Regions from separate parts of the Homo sapiens genome. Here region 2 is linked to region 1. Evidence: fine-mapped expression QTL. A gene starts in region 1. The other region holds a variant in brackets. All regions are shown on one strand. Distances are from middle to middle. Region 1 holds the start of ANKRD13A (ankyrin repeat domain 13A). Region 2 overlaps MYO1H (myosin IH).

The links. PIP is the estimated chance that this variant, and not a neighbour inherited with it, causes the effect.
Region 2: its variant is the best candidate, but not a certain one, in a credible set for the expression of ANKRD13A in testis (GTEx, PIP 0.90).

The regions. Positions count from the first base shown.
Region 1 is chr12:109,995,964-110,004,616 of GRCh38, reverse strand. ANKRD13A (ankyrin repeat domain 13A) reads right to left here and starts at 5,187. Exons shown (of 15, transcript NM_033121.2): 1 at 4,833-5,187. The coding sequence starts at 4,928. It overlaps GIT2 (GIT ArfGAP 2), which reads left to right and starts at 8,249. Exons shown (of 20, transcript NM_057169.5): 1 at 8,249-8,444. The coding sequence starts at 8,393. RefSeq lists silencers at 4,974-5,063, 5,074-5,193, 8,509-8,598 and enhancers at 5,274-5,463, 8,079-8,238.
Region 2 is chr12:109,406,611-109,415,263 of GRCh38, reverse strand. MYO1H (myosin IH) reads right to left here. Exons shown (of 32, transcript NM_001101421.4): 9 at 8,404-8,475; 10 at 7,351-7,470; 11 at 5,640-5,707; 12 at 5,196-5,301; 13 at 4,496-4,576; 14 at 3,279-3,370. Among named protein-coding and RNA genes, the nearest start is that of LINC01486, 51 kb to the right of the region's middle. The variant G/T (reference allele first, on the strand shown) is at 4,002.

The DNA of each region.
Region 1 (8,653 bases):
TCTTGTTGCCCAGGCTGGAGTGCAATGGTGCAATCTTAGCTCACCGAGATCTTGGCTCACTGCAACCTCTGCCTCCCAGGTTCAAGCAATTCTCCTGCCTCAGCCTCCCGGGTAGCTGGGATTACAGGCATGCACCACCACGCCTGGCTAATTTTGTATTTTTAGTAGAGACGGGGTTTCTCTGTGTTGGTCAGGTTGGTCTCGAACTCCCGACCTCAGGTGATCCGCCCACCTCGGCCTCCCAAAGTGCTGGGATTACAGGCCTGAGCCACCACGCCCGGCTGGAATTCACTTTCGAAACTGATCATTTAGGTTTTCCTTTTAAGTTTCTTTAGCCATGAGCTATACCCAAATAAAAATACCCATCCTCCTTTAACTAGGAGTTTCCTTCCTATTTGCTCATTTCAGCTCATCCACTTTTCTTGCTCAAAAGCCTTAAAAAAAATTTATTTTTTTTTTGAGATGGAGTCTCATACTGTTGCCGGGCCTAGAGTGCAATGGTGCGATTTTGGCTCACTGCAACCTCCGCCTCCCAGGTTCAAGCGATTCTCCCACCTCAGCCTCCCAAGTAGCTGGGATTACAAGCACCCGCCACCATGCCCAGCTAATTTTTCATATTTTTAGCAAAGATGGGGTTTCACTATGTTGGCCAGGCTAGTCTTGAACTCCTGACCTCATGATCCACCTGCCTTGGCCTCCCAAAGAGCTGGGAGTACAGGCGTGAGCCACCGTGCCCAGCCAAAAAAAATTTTTTTTTAAGGAGACGGAGTCTTACTATATTGGCCAGGCTGGTCTTGAACTCCTGTCCTCAAGCACTGACCCCACCTCAGCCTCCTCAATCAAAAGCCCTCTTTACTATCTTGCCATCCTCCTGCCGAGCTCTGAGGCCAGGCTGCAGAACCAGACAACTGGACACCCCTTCCAGCTTGCCCACTAGCCTCAGGTGAATTATCAGTTCCCCTGTGCCTTGGTACCTGGCATGCAGGAAGTGCTTCATAAACTCACTGTCACCTTTAGGGGGACTCCAGCAAGAGGCTGCTGGCTAGTCCTCCTCTCTCTCAACACAGACAACCACCCTCACTCCTCTTCACTCTCAGACCATCCTGGTCCTGTGTGGCCCCCACGCTGAGTCAGTGGAAACAGGAATCTTGAGGCCAGTTTCCTAAGGTGAGCTTGAACCCCCGATGACCAAGGGGGCACATGAGGAGAGCAGGCTCTAGGCTCTTCATCTTGGATGCCTAGCCCATGGCTCAGCGATTTGAATCTGTGCCCGGGGCCTCACCTGGCCTGCCCCAGGCTGGAGTGAGAACCCCAGGAATGTCCTCCTCTTACCTAGGTGCTATACTTTTCACCTGCTGGCTTCCTAAACAGGGAGCCTGGCTCTAGAGTCAGGCCTCATTTGCCACCCTCCACCTCACACAACCCAGGTTTTCCAACCCTGTCTAAGGTACACTGACTCACCTTTGCATCTGTCCCCTTAAGTGTTCATGTCTCACCATCAGTAAGAAGGCCAAAGAAGTTTAACAGACTTCTTTAGCTAAGCGGCCAACGACATAAGCAGAACACAAACAGTTTCAACTTCAGCAACCAACTTCAAGGCCCCACTGAATATTAATGAGCTGATGGGTTAAGAGGCACTTTATTAAATGCCTCTGCTGATCAAATGAAGGCCTGAAACAATCTGGTAGTTGGCATAGTTACACAACTGCCTGCTATTAGTGAGACAGTGGGATTGGGGCTGGCTCACACACACAGAAACACGTGCTTATCCTCTTCATCTGGATAAACTTGATTCTTTCTTGTGTTGCTGTTCCTGGAACAGGAACAAAAAACCTGGAAAAAAATTCTTACAGCTATCAGTATACATGCTCCAAGTCTCAATCAGGTGATAGACGGAATGAGGAAACTGACAGCAGAAACTCACCAGCAAACAAAACATTAAGGGAAACAGCCACTTTATTGCTGGGGTGATAAGAATTTTTTGGGTTTTTTTTGTTTTTTGAGTCGGAGCCTCGCTCTGTCTCCCAGCCTGGAGTGCAGTGGCACGATCTTGGCTCACTGCAACCTCAGCCTCCTGGATTCAAGCGATTCTCCTGCCTCAACCTCCTGAGTAGCTGGGATTACAAGCACGTGCCACCACATCCAGCTATTTTTGTATTTTTAGTAGAGACGGGGTTTCACCGTGTTGGTCAGGCTGGTCTCCAACTCCTGACCTCAGGCGATCTGCCTGCCTCAGCCTCCCAAAGTGCTGAGATTCCAGGCATGAGCCACCGTGCCCGGACTTAAGAATTTTTTGTTTTTAATTATGCAATCAATACATCTTCCTTGCAGAAAAACTGGAATATAGAGCAAAAAAGCTCAATCCCCAGGTTTACAAATGATGATTATAATAGCAGCAGCTACTAGTAAATATTGTTTCCAATTACCATATGCCTGCACTTTCAGGTCCATTATCTTCCTTATTTATTCTCCATAATCTTGAAATGAAGTCATTTTTACTGAAAGAAGTATAGTAGGGGTTAAGAATACAGGATTTGGGCAAGGCACAGTGGCTCATGCCTGTAATCCCAGCACTTTGGGAGGCTGAGGCGGGCAGATCACTTGAGTACAAGAGTTCAAGACCAGCCTGGGCACCAAAAGAAGTAGATTCCTAAAAACCAAAACTGGTCATTTTTAAAGTGTCCTAGCTGAGTCTTACAGTTTTTACCTCTGTACCATGTCTAGTAATAGAAAAGGAATTAAATGATCAGTATACTAAAATGCCTAATGGTGAATCATTTAGTCTGAGGGCATGTGTCATATCTCCTTAACTCTTAAATAGTTGGTCTGTCATCTAATTAAGAACGATGACTCTCACAAAAGTTTATCGTATCTGGAATTCTTTTTAAATGAAAAAAGGCCGGCAACAGTGGCTCATGCCTGTAATCCCAGCACTTTGGGAGGTAGAGGTGGGCGGATTGCTTGAGGCCAGGGGTTGAAACCAGCATGGCCAACATGACAAAATACCACCTCCACTAAAAATACAAAAATTAGCCTGTAATCCCAGCTACTGAGGAGGCTGAGGCAGGAGAATCGCTGGAACCCGGGAGGCGAAGGTTGCAGTGACCTGAGATCGCGCCACTGCACTCAAGTCTGAATGACAGAGCGAGACTCCATCTCAAAAAGAAAAAAAAAAAAAAAGAAACAGAAAAGAAAAGAGGGTAATTTTGGACTTCGGTGAGGGCTCAACCACCTTAAATATGGCAGGTTGCAAGCACACAGCTTGCAGCACCCATTCACCAAATGGAGTAATGCTAACCTTCTCAATTTTTGTCAACCATAAGACAAACAATCCTCCTCTTCCTCTACAATTTCTTGACAATTATAGCACCAATTTTGAGCCATTCAAAAACCAGGTCTGTAAGACACTGGATAAAATGTATGAAGTCAACAAGAACAACCATACTAGATTTCAGGGGTAATCACAAATCCTCATCCTAACTGCTAAGTTTGTTAGCTTGAAACTTGAGGGCACCAATACCTCCCAGAATTGTTGGGAGACTTTAAAAGCAGAGTTTCTCAGCCAGGCGTGGTGGCTCACACCTGTAATCCCAGCACTTTGGGAGGCTGAGGCGGGCGGATCACCTGAGGTCGGGAGTTTGAGACCAGCCTGACCAACATGGAGAAACCCCATCTCTACTAAAAATACAAAATTAGCCGGGCGTGGTGGTGCATCCCTGTAATCTCAGTTACTTGGGGGGCTGAGGCAGAAGAATCGCTTGAACCCAGGAGGCGGAGGTTGCAGTGAGCCGAGATCGCACCATTGCACTCCAGCCCGGGCAACAAGAGCGAAACTCAGTCTCAAAAAAAAAAAAAAAAAAAGAAGGAAAGAAAGAAAAGCAGAGTTTCTCAACCAAGACGCTGTCGGCTTTGGGGGCCGGAGAAGTCTTAGTTGCGGGGGGCTGTCTTGGCCATTGTAGGATGTTGAGCAGCATAACCGGCCTCTACCCACTACCAGAAGCACCCACTCCCCACTTTCAACAACCAAAAATGTCCCATACATTGCCAAATGTCCCCGGGGGGTCGTGGGTGCAAAATCACCTCCAACTGAGAGCACTACTGCTTTAAAGAGATAGCAATAATGAAAAGATTAAAGCATCAAAGCACTTTAGAACAGGAAGGGATTTTAAGGAGCCTGAGAACCCGTGATTCTCAAACTTTGCTAGGTATCAGCCTCCCTGGGGAGTTTGTTAAAAATGCGGCACCTGGACCTCACCCCAGACCTATCAATAGAGTCAAGTGTTGGGTTCTGCCCCAGCACCAACATCCTCATTCTACAGCTAAGTTAACGTCGGCCAGAGAGGGAAAATGCCTTGCCCAAGGTCACAGGGCGAGTTAGAACCTGGACTCCAAAACCAACCAAGCCCTTCCTTACAACAAGGAGAGTGTGCTATTCTTACGTCTTTGAGGCAGCAGAACCTAAAAATGGTTAAGACGGTGCATTCCGGAGCCAGCCGGCCCGAGTTAAAATCCCGACTTGGCATTTATCAGCGGGGCGGCCTCGCACAAGGCACGTAGCGTCTGAGGACCTGTTTCCTTCTCTGTCCAGTGGAAAAGTAACAGTACCTACCCACCAGCGTTATTGGAAAGGTGAAGAGAGAAGATATTTAAAAAGCCCGTCGCACGGTAAGCACTCGATACGTGTCCTATTATTAGGACTGTCCCACACCTGCAAAGTGGAAGGGGTCTGGGGATCCCGGGGACAGAGGGCTGGAAATGGGCTCAGGGAGGCGAAACGACCCCCGATTCCCCGAAGTCCCCACCGGGAGACGGACCCCCGCCCCGCCCCTCACCTGGCCCTGCAGCTCCTTCTCGAGCTGCCGGTAGTCGTTTTTCCAGACTAGGAGGTGCAGGGGGTAGTGGTCGCCCGCGTCGCAGGCCGAGGACATGGCGAGGAGGCCGTAACCTGGTCCTCGTCGCCCGCCCCAAGTCTCGGCCCCGGCGGGGTCTCCCGCGCCCGCCTGCCTGCCCTGAGGCCGGCGAGCAAGCGAGCGTAGGGCGTGTTACGCTGCCGGCCGGCTGAGCCGGTCGGGTGCGGGGCGCGCGGGAGGTCCGGGGTCGCCGGCCGGCTCAGGGACCAGGTCGGCCGCGCCCACCCCGCGCCCCGCGGCGTTCCCGCCCGCGCTGACAGCTCGCGGACAGACTTCTGCGGACCTAACTGCCCCAAACAGGGAAGTGCGGAGAGCGAACCACCGCATGCCGCGGCGGGGATAGGCGACCTTGGGCACCGGGTCCGGGGTCCGCGCCATTGCACCCACCTCCAGCTCACACCGAGAAACTCAGTGCAGCCCACAGAACAGAGCTGAGGCTCATTCTCTTGGCCAAAGATCTCCACGCGGAAAGTTCCGTCTACCTGTCCCCAGCTTCTTTCCCCCTGCTCCAGTAGCCCCATGTGGTTCGGTCCACAACTGGGCCTCTTCCATTGGCTCTGAAGTCAGGGGGTGACAACTGAGCCCCGGACCAAACCATTCCAGCTGCCGACACCCTTGCAGCCTTTTTGGAGCAGGACAGATGCTTCCACGACGGGTCAAAAGCCATTTTGGAAGTGGGCAACACCGGACAATTTTTGAAGGAGGAACGCTAAACCCTGGCGAAGTGGCTTCAAATACAGTATTTGCATAAAAGGGGATATTTCTACTTCATGATTTCTCAACCTCGGCACATATTGAACTGGGCAGTTTTTGTGTGGGGGTTGTCCGGTCCTTGTAGGATGCTGAGCAGTTGCCCTGGTCTTTCTCCCCACTCAATGCCAGTAGCACTCCCCAAAACATGTCTCTCCAGATATTGCCAAATGTCGTCTCGGGGAGAAAAATCGTCCTCAGTTGAGAACCGCTTCTATTTGAACTCCGAACCGGGTTATGATTCAATAGCTAACTATGGTGGTGATTTAGTCCATGTATGAATGTCATTTTTAAGCTAGCTTTTTGGATTTGAGGTTATGGCTGAAAGGACTGATAAATAATATACATATTTGACCACAGTCTGCGAATATGAAGTTTATTCTTTGAGTTTCAGGCACTATGCCTCCTTGACTCAATGAAGAACCAAATCAACTTACAGCTAGCTACTCATGGGCTTGAACTTTCTGCTGCTGCTTCAGCTCAGCTGTCTACAACTAGACCACATAGCTGGATGAAGCTATTTAATGCATTGTGAAAACATTCCCTCTGCCCTCTGAGTGTATGCACATCCAGCTCTTCAGATGCCTGCAACAACAGCTGTTCAAGAATCCCAACCTAATCCATTCTCCACAGATGTGGAGCCCAGAAGATTTGTGAGTTGTTAAACCAAAACAGGATGCAGGAGCACCAGGATGGCACCCGGAGACTCTAACCATGGAATGCGTGGGAATTCTGTGATTATTTCTCCATCACACATTTATCACACTGTAGAGATGGACTCAAGACCAGTGCTTCTGAGGCCTTTTCCAGCACTTCTCATTCTTTCAGATGCCTTTTGCAACTTAACGTTCTCCTTCTTCTTCATCATGCCGTGTTTATTGAAAATCTCCCTATCTCATTAATCAGAAAACCCCATAATGACAGGAACCACATCGTTTTGCTTACCAGAGTATCTAAAACCAAAATAGTACCTGGCTAACAACAGGCATTCAATATTTGCTGAATGGAGATCATAGCTGTGTTTATATGTAAGACAGACAATAAGTAGTCATTGGTATTAGGGTCACATCTCCTTTCTCCTTCACACTGATTTACCTCATTTCATTGTGTTTATCTCACACCATTTTGTAAATTATCCCATGTTAGCTATTGTTATTCTCAAATTCCACGCATATGAAGAAAAACAGTAATTAGAAAATAATAGCAATATCCATAATTATGGGAGCTACTATTTACTGAGGGGTTACTATCCAGCAGGTGTATCACATTTTTCCCATAATTTATTCCATCTGTCCTTAGCCAAAATGAATGTTTAACTTTGCTGGTCACATACAAGTTTTGTCGCATATTCTTCTTCCTCTTTTTCTTTATTTCCCTCTCTCTCTTCTTCATTTTCATCTCGCAACCCTTTAAAAATGTAAAAATCATTCTTAAGTAGCAAGCCATACAAAAACAAATCGTGGACTAGAAGTAAACAATGCATTATCTTAATTTTGAACATGAGATTAAAACTGAAGCCTAAGGAATCATCTAATATATTCTTTTTTGTTATTTTTGTTGTTGTTGTTGAAGTTGTTTTTGAGACAGTCTCGCTCTGTCCCCCAGGCTGGAGTGCAGTGACGCGATCTCTGCTCACTGCAACGTCCACCTCCCAGGCTCAAGCGATTCTCATGCCTCAGCCTCCTGAGTATCTAGGATTACAGGCATGCGCCACCACGCCCGGCTAATTTTTTTTTTTTTTTTTTTTTTTTTGAGACGGAGTCTCACTCTGTCGCCCATGCTGGAGTGCAATGGCGTGATCTCAGCTCACTGCAACCTCCACCCCCTGGGTTCAAGCTCCTGCCTCAGCCTCCCAAGTAACTGAGATTACAGGCTCCTGCCACTGTGCCCGGCTAATTTTTGTATTTTTAGTAGAGACGGGGTTTCACCATGTTGGCCAGGCTGGTCTTGAACTCCTGACCTCGTGATCCACCCGCCTCGGCCTCCCAAAGTGCTGGGATTACAGGCGTGAGCCACCGCGCCCGGCCAATTTTTGTATTTTTAGTAGAGATGGGGTTTCACCATGTTGCCCAGGCTGGTCTCGAACTCCTGCCTCAAGTGATCCTCCTGCCTCAGCCTTCCAAAGAGTTGAGATTACAAGAGTGAGCCACCACGCCCAGCCTGGAATCATATAATATATTCTTATTTTACTTTACCCCAGTAAAATGCAAGCTTCATAAGGACTAGAAATTCAGTCTTTGCTCACTGCTGTTTCTCCAGTGGCTGGGACAGTATATAAAGCATGGTAAGTGCTTGATAAACATTTGTTGAATCAAGGAATGAATGAATGAACTTGACCATTGATTGCCTCAGGAAGGTTGTGGCTGCAGGGTTCTCATCACAAGATATTGCTACTTCCCCTGGTATTAATCAGTTGGGACGAGGGGAATCTCTGCCAGAGAAGAAGACCCAAATTCAATATTTAAAGGTAGGACAGATGATACTCGGGCAGTCTCCTGCCCTCACTCAAGATGGCGACAAGGCAGAGTGCCCTTTCCGGTCACATGACCTGACACTCGCCGAAGGGCACCTCCCCGCGCGTGCGTGCTGTGCCAAGGCTGCAAGGCGCTGAGGGGAGAGGCGCCGCCGTCAGCGCCGCCGCAGCTGGGACCCGTTAGAGCGGAAGCGCCGCCGCCACCGCCGCCTTTGCTGTCCCCCGGCCTCTAGTTCCCCGCAGGTGGGAGGTGGGAGCCATGTCGAAACGGCTCCGGAGCAGCGAGGTGTGCGCTGACTGCAGCGGGCCGGGTGAGTCGCACCGGCCGGGCCCGCTCCCCTCTGCTTTCCTGGCCCGGACCCCTACCCCGGGGCCGCCCCCTCAGGTCAGGCTGCATCCCGCGGCTAGGGTCGCAACGAAGAGGTCCCTGGGCGGCCTTGGGGTGGGAACCGTCCCGGGCCTGTCAGAGCCGGGCGGGCAGGGGGCCGCCGCCCTCCCCGTCCCTCGCGGCCCTCCCTTC
Region 2 (8,653 bases), 590 kb after region 1:
ACCTCGTGATCTGCCTGCCTCAGCCTACCAAAGTGCTGGGATTACAGGCCTAAGCCACCGTGCCTGGCCCATGAGTTGAACTTTCTACTTCACTGAGACAAAATGGCACCAATAACTGAAGCAAAGAGTGAGAGAGAGACGTCTTCAATCAGTTAGGTCCACATTGAAAGCCACCACACAGGGAGGCTCCCAGGAAGTTTTGTTACTTATTTTCTGGCCATAGACCAAGATTTCTTTAAAATTAGATCCTTTGGCCGGGCATGGTGGCTCACACCTATAATCCTAGTACTTTGGGAGGCTGAGGCAGGAGGATCGTTTAAGGCCAGGAGTTTGAGATTAGTCTGGGCAACACAGCAAGACCCTGTCTTTAAAAAAAAAATACAAAGAATTAGCTGGGAGTGGTAGCATGTGCCTTGTAGTCCCAGCTACTCAGGAGGCCGAGGTGGGAGGATTGCTTGAGCCCAGGAATTTGAGGCTGCAGTGAGCTATAATTATACCACTAGACTCCAGCCTGTGCAACAGAGTGAGACCTTGTCTCAAAAAATAAAAAAATAAAATTAGATCCTTTCTTCCCATAAATGCTGAGAAATAAAAGTATAGAACTGAGCCACAGAAACACATGTATTTGCATAATAAATTAACTTTTGTTTTTCTAGGTGATGTAACAAAGAACAATTTTAAATCTTATATTTTTATAATGTTGAGAGACTAAAATACTCATAAAACATCAGTTTTCAGTTTCTACAGATTCTTGATTTTTTTTTTCTTTCTTTTTTTTTTTTTTTTTGAGATGGAGTCTCACTCTGTCTCCCAGGCGGGAGTGCAGTGGTGTGATCTCGGCTTACTGCAACCTCCACCTCCTGAGTTCAGACGATTCTCCTGCCTCAGCCTCCTGAGTAGCTGGGATTACAGGCGTAAGCCACCACACCTGGCTAATTTTTTGGATTTTTAGTGGAGATGGGGTTTCACCATGTTGGCCAGGCTGGTCTTGAACTCCTGACCTCAGATTATCCACTCGTCTTGGTCTCGCAAACAGCTGGGATTACAGGTGTGAGCCACTGTGTCTGGCCAGATTCTTGATTTTTTAAAATGACTTTTACTTAAATCTGTCATACATATTGACAGCACACATATATTCTAAGCGTACGGCTCAATGAATTTTTGAAAACGATATGCCTGTGCAACCAGCACCCAGATTAAGAAGCAGAGCATTCATTACCAGTCCCTGAGAACCCCCACTTTGAGCCCTTTCTAGTCGCAACCAGACATGTAGCAGCATAAGTGAATTTTTACCCAGTTGTATGCATTGCATTGCAATGGAATTATATAGAATGTAGTCCTTTTTTTTCTCTTTGAGATGGAGTCTTGCTCTGTTGCCCAGGCTGGAGTGCAGTGGCGCAATCTCGGCTCACTGCAACCTCTACCTCCCAGGTTCAAGCGATTCTCCTGCCTCAGCCTCCTGAGTAGCTGGAACTACAGGCGTGTACCACCATGCCTGGCTAATTTTTGTATTTTTAGTAGAGACAGGGTTTCACCATGTTGGTCAGGCTGGTCTTGAACTCTTGACCTCAGGTGATCCAGCTGCCTCGGCCTCTCAAAGTGCTGGGATTATAGGCATGAACCAGCACGCTCGGCCACAGTATGTACTCATTTGTGTAATTTACTTACATCATTGCATGCAGTTATAGATTATTCATTGCACAGTGATATATTATTCCATTTGTGAATGTACCCCAATTTATTTTTCCATTCTTGATTCACTATGCAATTTCATGTACTTATCCTTTGCAATTTCATTTACTTATATCCTTTCAGTATTCTACAACAGGTCTGAGAAAGCCACCACCATTTACTAAGTCTTTACCATGGCCAGAGATTGCACTAGGCAATTTATGGCATCATTTACAAAATTGGATGGTAGGTATGTTAATAACCCCCATCTTGTATAGCAGGGAAAACACAAATGCAGGAGCATTCATTTGGTCTTGGGGCCAGGCATGGTGGCTCATTTCTGTAATCCCAGCACTTTGGGACACTGAGGTGGGCAGATCACTTGAGGTCAGGAGTTCGAGACCAGCCTGGCTAACATGGTGAAAGCCCACCTCTACTAAAAATACAAAAAAATAGCCAGGCGTGATGGCGCACACCTGTAGTCCCAGCTACTTGTGAGGCTGAAGCAGAATCACTTGAACCCGGGAGGTGGAGGTTGCAGTGAGCCGAGATCGCCCTACTACACTCAGCCTGGGCAACAGAGCAAGACTCTGTCTCAAATAATAATAATAACAACAACAACAACAACAACAACAACAAATTAGCCGGGCGTAGTGGCAAGTGCTTGTAATCCCAGCTACTTGGGAGGCTGAGGCAGGAGAATCGTTTAAACCCAGGAGGCGGAGGTTGTAGTGAGCAGAGATTGCACAACTGCACTCCAGCCTGGGCAACAGAGTGAGACTCCATCTCAAACAAAACAAAACAAAACCAAAAAACAAAAAAGAAACAAGCAAACAAACCAGGTCTTAATGACTCCAGCATATGCTCTTAAATTCTCTCCTGCTTACCTCAAAGACTAAGTTAAATGTCTAGTTGATCTTGTGGGATGTGGTACTCTATATCTGATCCGCATGGTGGTTACACAGGCACATACAAGTACAAAAATTTATCAGGTTGTACATTTCAGATCTACACATATCACTGTATTTTATACCTGAATTTTTGAAAAGATTATTTCATGTACATAGACATGTCCAAAATATAATGATCACTGAATAAAGGAAGATATAAAATCTTTTTAAAAAATCATACTTGTGTCTGGGCACGATGGCTCACAGCAGTAATCCCAGCACTTTGGGAGGCCAAGATGGGTGGATCGCTTGAAGCCAGGAGTTCCAGACCAGCCTGGGCAACAGGGTGAAACCCTGTCTTTACAAAAAATATAAAAATTAGCCAGGCATTGTGGTGTATGTTTGTAGTCCTGGCTTCTTGGGAGGCTGAGGTTGGAGGATCACTTGAGCCTGGGAGGTTGAGGCTGCAGTGAGCTGTGATCACGTCACTGCACTCCAGCCTAGGTGACAGACTGAGACCATGTCTCAAAAAAAAATTATAATTCATTTAGGTTTAATTTCTACTAACAAAGGTCTGGCACATCTATGAGTGGTATACATAAAGATATTTTTATGTATGAAGTAGTTGTTCTCTTGAAGAACATTATCCAAATACTAAAGAAAATGGAGACACAATCATCTTCCCCCATGCAAAATCTGGTAAAATAAAGTATGTACGTTTCGAAGTGTGCATGTTTGCCCACTTTCTCTTCCAATTTCTCCAGGAAACTCAAGTCTGTAGCAGGACCAGGCCGAATGCATTCTTCATCCTTCAAAAGAAAAAGAGAAGCCTCAATCCACAGCACCACACTCCATCAATGCCAAGTTTAAATGCTTTCACCAGCTGGAACAGAAAGTACTGGACTAAAAGACTGTCAATTCATGTAAGTGCAGGTGAACATTCTGGGGGGAAGAAGGGCTTAATCCATGTGTTTGGCTTCTAAGATTTGATAAGGGGACCATGGAACCAGAGGGCCTGAATATCCCATGAAAAGGCAACACTCTGACCATCTGACTCAAAGTCTTCCCAAGGATACTCCACACAGCTACTATGACCAACCTCGTTTTCTCTAAACCAGTCATCACTGACCATGATTACCATGTGTACAGACTCTTGTTGTAGAAGAAAAGCCCTCATGGAAAGAAAGGTATAAAACCAGTTAAGTCGAAGTTTTTATATTTCTTAAGTTCATTTTTCTATTTCCTATTTTTCGTCCTCAAGAATGATACCATTTAGTTGGCATCTTAAAAATTACAGGTGTGGTTGGGTGAAGTGGTTCACACCTATAATCCTGGCATTTGGCAGGCCAAGGTGGGAGGATGTCTTGAGCCCAGGAGTTCAAGACCAGCACAGGCACATGGTGAAACCCTGTCTCTACAAAATTTTTAAAATTTAGCCAG[G/T]TGTGGTGGTATACCTTTGTAGTCCCAGCTACTCAGGAGGCTGATGTGGGAGGACTGCTTGAGCCCAGGAGTTAGAGACCACCCTGGCTCAACCCTTTTTTTATTTTTATTTTTATTTTTTGAGATGGAGTCTCCCTCTGTCGCCCAGGCTGGAGCGCAGTGGTATGATCTCAGCTCACTGCAACCTCTGCCTCCGGGGTTCAAGCAATTCTCCTGTTTCAGCCTCCCAAGTAGCTGGGACTACAGGCGCATGCCATCATGCCCGGCTAATTTTTGTATTTTTAGTAGAGACAGGGTTACACCATACTGTTCAGGCTGCTTTCTAACTCCTGACCTCAGGTGATCCACCCACCTCGGCCTCCCAAAGTGTTGGAATTACAGGCGTGAGCCACCGTGCCTGGCCTGGCTCAACCCTTTTTAAGCCTGGGAAAAAGTTCTTCCAAGAGTTGTAAGTGCCGGGTGAATAGCTCTAATGCAACATTCATTTTTCTCACCAGAATAGATATGATTCCTTTATGTCTCTCTTCTACCAAATCACAGATGATCTTGTTGTTGAAATATTTAATTGGCTCCCACTAAAATGACAAAGAGGAATGAATTCTCCAAGAAATATTTAGATGAGCATCAAAGTTGGTTTTAAATTGGTTTTCTAAAACATCTTTTTTCAAAATCTAGTTTTTATATTCAACCTTAAACAAATTATATTTTCTGAATATCAAAATAATTTCCCAGGAAATAAGCAGAGAAGGCCTAAAAATTAATCCTCAGTACTAATCAGGAATATCTCCAATGAAATAATACTTCAGTTAAATGTCTTTAGTGGTTGGGCACAGTGGCTCACACCTGTAATCCCAGTACTTTGGGAGGTTGAGGCAGGAAGATCACTTGAGTCCAGGAGTTCGAGACCAGCCTGGGCAACATAGAGAGACCCTGTCTCTACAAAAAGTAAAACAATTAGCCAGGCATGGTGGCATGTGCCTGTGATCCCAGCTACTTAGGAGGCTGAGGCAGGAGGATCACTCGAGCCCAGGAGGTGGAGGTTGCAACCAGTCATGATTGTGCCACTGGACTCCAGCCTGGGCGACAGAGTGAGATCTTGTCTCAAAAAAATAAAAAAAAAATTAATTAAATTAAAAAAAGAAGTCTTTAGCTAGATGAAGAAATCAGATGAGGAGAAAACATCAAAATGTTTACCTCTATGCCTTCCATTTCATATTCTGCCTGTTCTGCTTTTAGAGTCCTCTCAATTAACAGTTGCTGGAGTTTCTCATTGCAGTAATTTATACAGAACTGTTCAAAACTAGAGATACAAAAGATTTAAGTAACTAAAGTTATATGAAGAGAACAATTTTTTTAAACAAATTATATTCTTTTTAGGCATACTTTTTAATAAAGAAAAAGCAAAGTCCTCATTAATAAAATAATTTACTAAATAGATCATAAGAGTCAAGTGAAAATATATTTGCATTTTTATGGTTAGTCCACATCTAGGATGGTCTGTGAGTTAGAAACTATGTAAATCTAGAGACTTTCTGGGGACAGGGAAATCAATCTAGTAACATTAGCGAAAGATTTAAATCTCGACTGAAATCTTAAAAAAGGGCAAAAGACAGATAGGTAGGTAATGACAAAACATACCCATTCTTGTCAAAGACTTCAAACCCATAGATGTCCAGTAATCCAATTACAGTTTTCCTGGTGAAATCCTGGTCAAAATAACACACCCCATTCATAGTTAGGTCTTTTCCTTTGTGCTACTCAAAACTGTTGCTGCTCCCCTAAACTGGGACTTGGCGCTAAAGCTCATATGTCCTCTGTCTCCAACAATGCGGAAAATCTTTGGGTGGAAGTAATTTCCCCAGCCTGCTGCTCCTGCCTGCTCAGATCCCACTGCAGCTTCCATAGCCATCACCTGTGTAGTCAGACCTTCCCCTTCTGATTCACTTCTTTGTTCAGGTGTCCTCAGCCTCCCAAGCCCATGTACAATCAAAAAAAAAAAAAAAAAAAAAAAAAAAAGAAGAAGAAGAAGAAGAAGAAAAAGAAGAAGGAGAAGAAGAAGGAGAAGGAGATGGAGAAAAGGACCTATAGACAGACAAGAAGATGCCTATCCAAGTAAGAGGACCAAGTACCCTCAGGCCAGGGTGGGTATTTAAAGATGATGTATTTATTTCAGGCCAGGCGTGGTGGCTCACGCCTGCAATCCCAGCACTTTGGGAGGCTGAGGCAGGCGGATCACTTGTGGCCAGGAGTTTGAGACCAGCCTGGCCAACATGGCGAAACCCCATTTCTACTAAAAAATTACAAAAATTAGCCAGGCATGGTGGCATGCACCTGTAATCCCACTACTTGGGAGTTTGAGGCACAAGAATCGCTTGAACCCCAGAGGTGGAGGCTGCAGTGAGCCAAGATTGTGCCACTGCACTTCAGCCTGAACGACAAAGTGGGACTCCGTCTCAAAAAAAAATAAAAAAGAGATAATGTATTTATTTAGTTTTAAAGGGACACAATTAAATACTCTGTATGAGTGTCCTAAGTCACTGCCTCCAAAATCATCTTTTGTGTCCTACCTCCATGAATTTTGTCACATCCACATATCCCCTCCCCATCCATGTATCATTTCTTAATTTTTAGCTTGGATTAAATCCCTTTTTTATTTAAATAATTCCACTTGAAAAGGAAACGTGACTGAAGCGTGAGTTTCAAGGGCTATATTTTTTCGTAAATATGTTAAAATATGCTTCTGTTGAAATTTTTAAAATGTCAGGTGAATATATTACTGTTGAAATTTAAAGATTTGTGGTGGTTCATGCCTGTAATCCCAGCACTTAGGAAGGCAGCAGTGGGAAGATGGCTTGGGCCTGGGAGTTTGAGACCAGCCTGGACAACATAGCAAGACCTCATCTCTACAAAATTTTTTTTTAAAATTAGCAGGGCATGGTGGTATGCAACTGTAGTTCCAGCTATTTGGGAGGCTGAGGTAGGAGAATTGCTTAAGCCCAGAAGCTGGAAGTTGCAAGTTATGATTGCACCACTGCACCCCAGCCTGAGTGACAGAGCAAGATCTTGTCTCTAAAAATAAAAATAAAAAATAAAAAGTTTCTGTGTACACTTGAAGCTATCTGGCATACCACAAGCACTATGCACAGCACGCTTTGGAACACATTGTATAAGTCATTCGGCATGCACCCATACTGTATGCTAGACATGGGAAATGTGAATAGGGAAAGACACCATCTCTGCCCATGAGGCGCCCACAGTTCATTCTCCCTCCCAAATTCTTTAAAGAAACGATGATTATAAAACATCACCACGTGAGCAAGAGCAAGGGATCCAAAATGCGTTGACCAACCTTGTTAACTAAGGAGGAATTGATTTTGTTGACCAGCCAAGTAAACGTTCGTCCATAAACAGCCTTTGCCATTGCATCTCTAGCGTAGACAGAGAGTTCTAGTGTCAACGGGCAGATCACCTGAAAAGAATGACAAGGTGCATCATTATAGGTGGAAAAAAGAAGCCCCCAGAGTGTTCAAAGAAGTCTTTTTTCTTAAAAAAAAAATAAAATAATGAGACAGGGTCTCGCTCTGCTGCCCAGCCTGGAATGCAGTAGCTGGGACTACAGGTGCCCACCACCATGCCTCGCTTTTTTTTTTTTTTTTTTTTTTGTAGAAATGTGGTCTAGCCATGTTGCCCAGGCTGGTCTTGAACTCCTGGGCTCAAGGAATCCTCCCACTGCAGCCTCCTAAAGTGATTACAGGTATAAGCCACCACACACAGTCTTGAACTAGTGTTTAATGATGACTGGCAAAGGATACATGCTGGGAAGATGCTACTCTTGTCTTTGGTTCATATGATGGCTCTTTCTTGAGTGCCCATGTGTGCCAGGCACTGTGCTGGGCTGCCGAGATACAGCTGTAACCCAGACACACAGTCCTGACCTTCATGGGCACACAGTTCATTTGAGGGTAGGGAGGGATGGAGAGACATTCAAAGAATCACAGTCATGTTGAAAGGGCTACAAGAGATACATAGGGTGCTTTGACGTAGAGGTGGGAGGATCAGAGAAGGCTCCTTGAGGAAGTGACCCCCAGGAAATGAAGGATGAAGAGGAGTTAACTAGATAAAGCACCGGGAACAGTGTTCCAGCAGAAGGAATAGCATGTGCAAAGACTCCTGTGGAGGGAAGACATAGACAGTATGAGGTGTGGATTGCTAGCATTGGTGTGGTGGTGGTGATGGTGATGGGGGAAGATGAGGCAGGACACTCCACAGGAGCTGGACCACGCAGGGCCTGGTGAGCTAGGATCAAAGGTTTGGCCTCCCCTGAGGCCACCACCCTGCTGTTATCGAGGGAGGCAGCAGCAGCAGGGAGGGCTGGCACATTTCCACCTATAGCCATTTTTACCTCCTCAGTTTTGGCTTCAATTTTTCTGTGGGTGAGAGCTTCCAGAAGGACTGATGGGTGGACCCCCAGGAGCTGCATGTAAAAGAAATCCAGAATGCTATTCAGTGACGCAGTTTTACTTGCTTTTTATTATTTTTTTAGAGACAAGGTATGGCTCTGTTACCCAGGTGGGAATGTGGTGGCACAATCATAGCTCATTGTAACTTTTTTTCAGACAAGGTCTCACTCTGTCATCCAGGCTGGAGTGCAG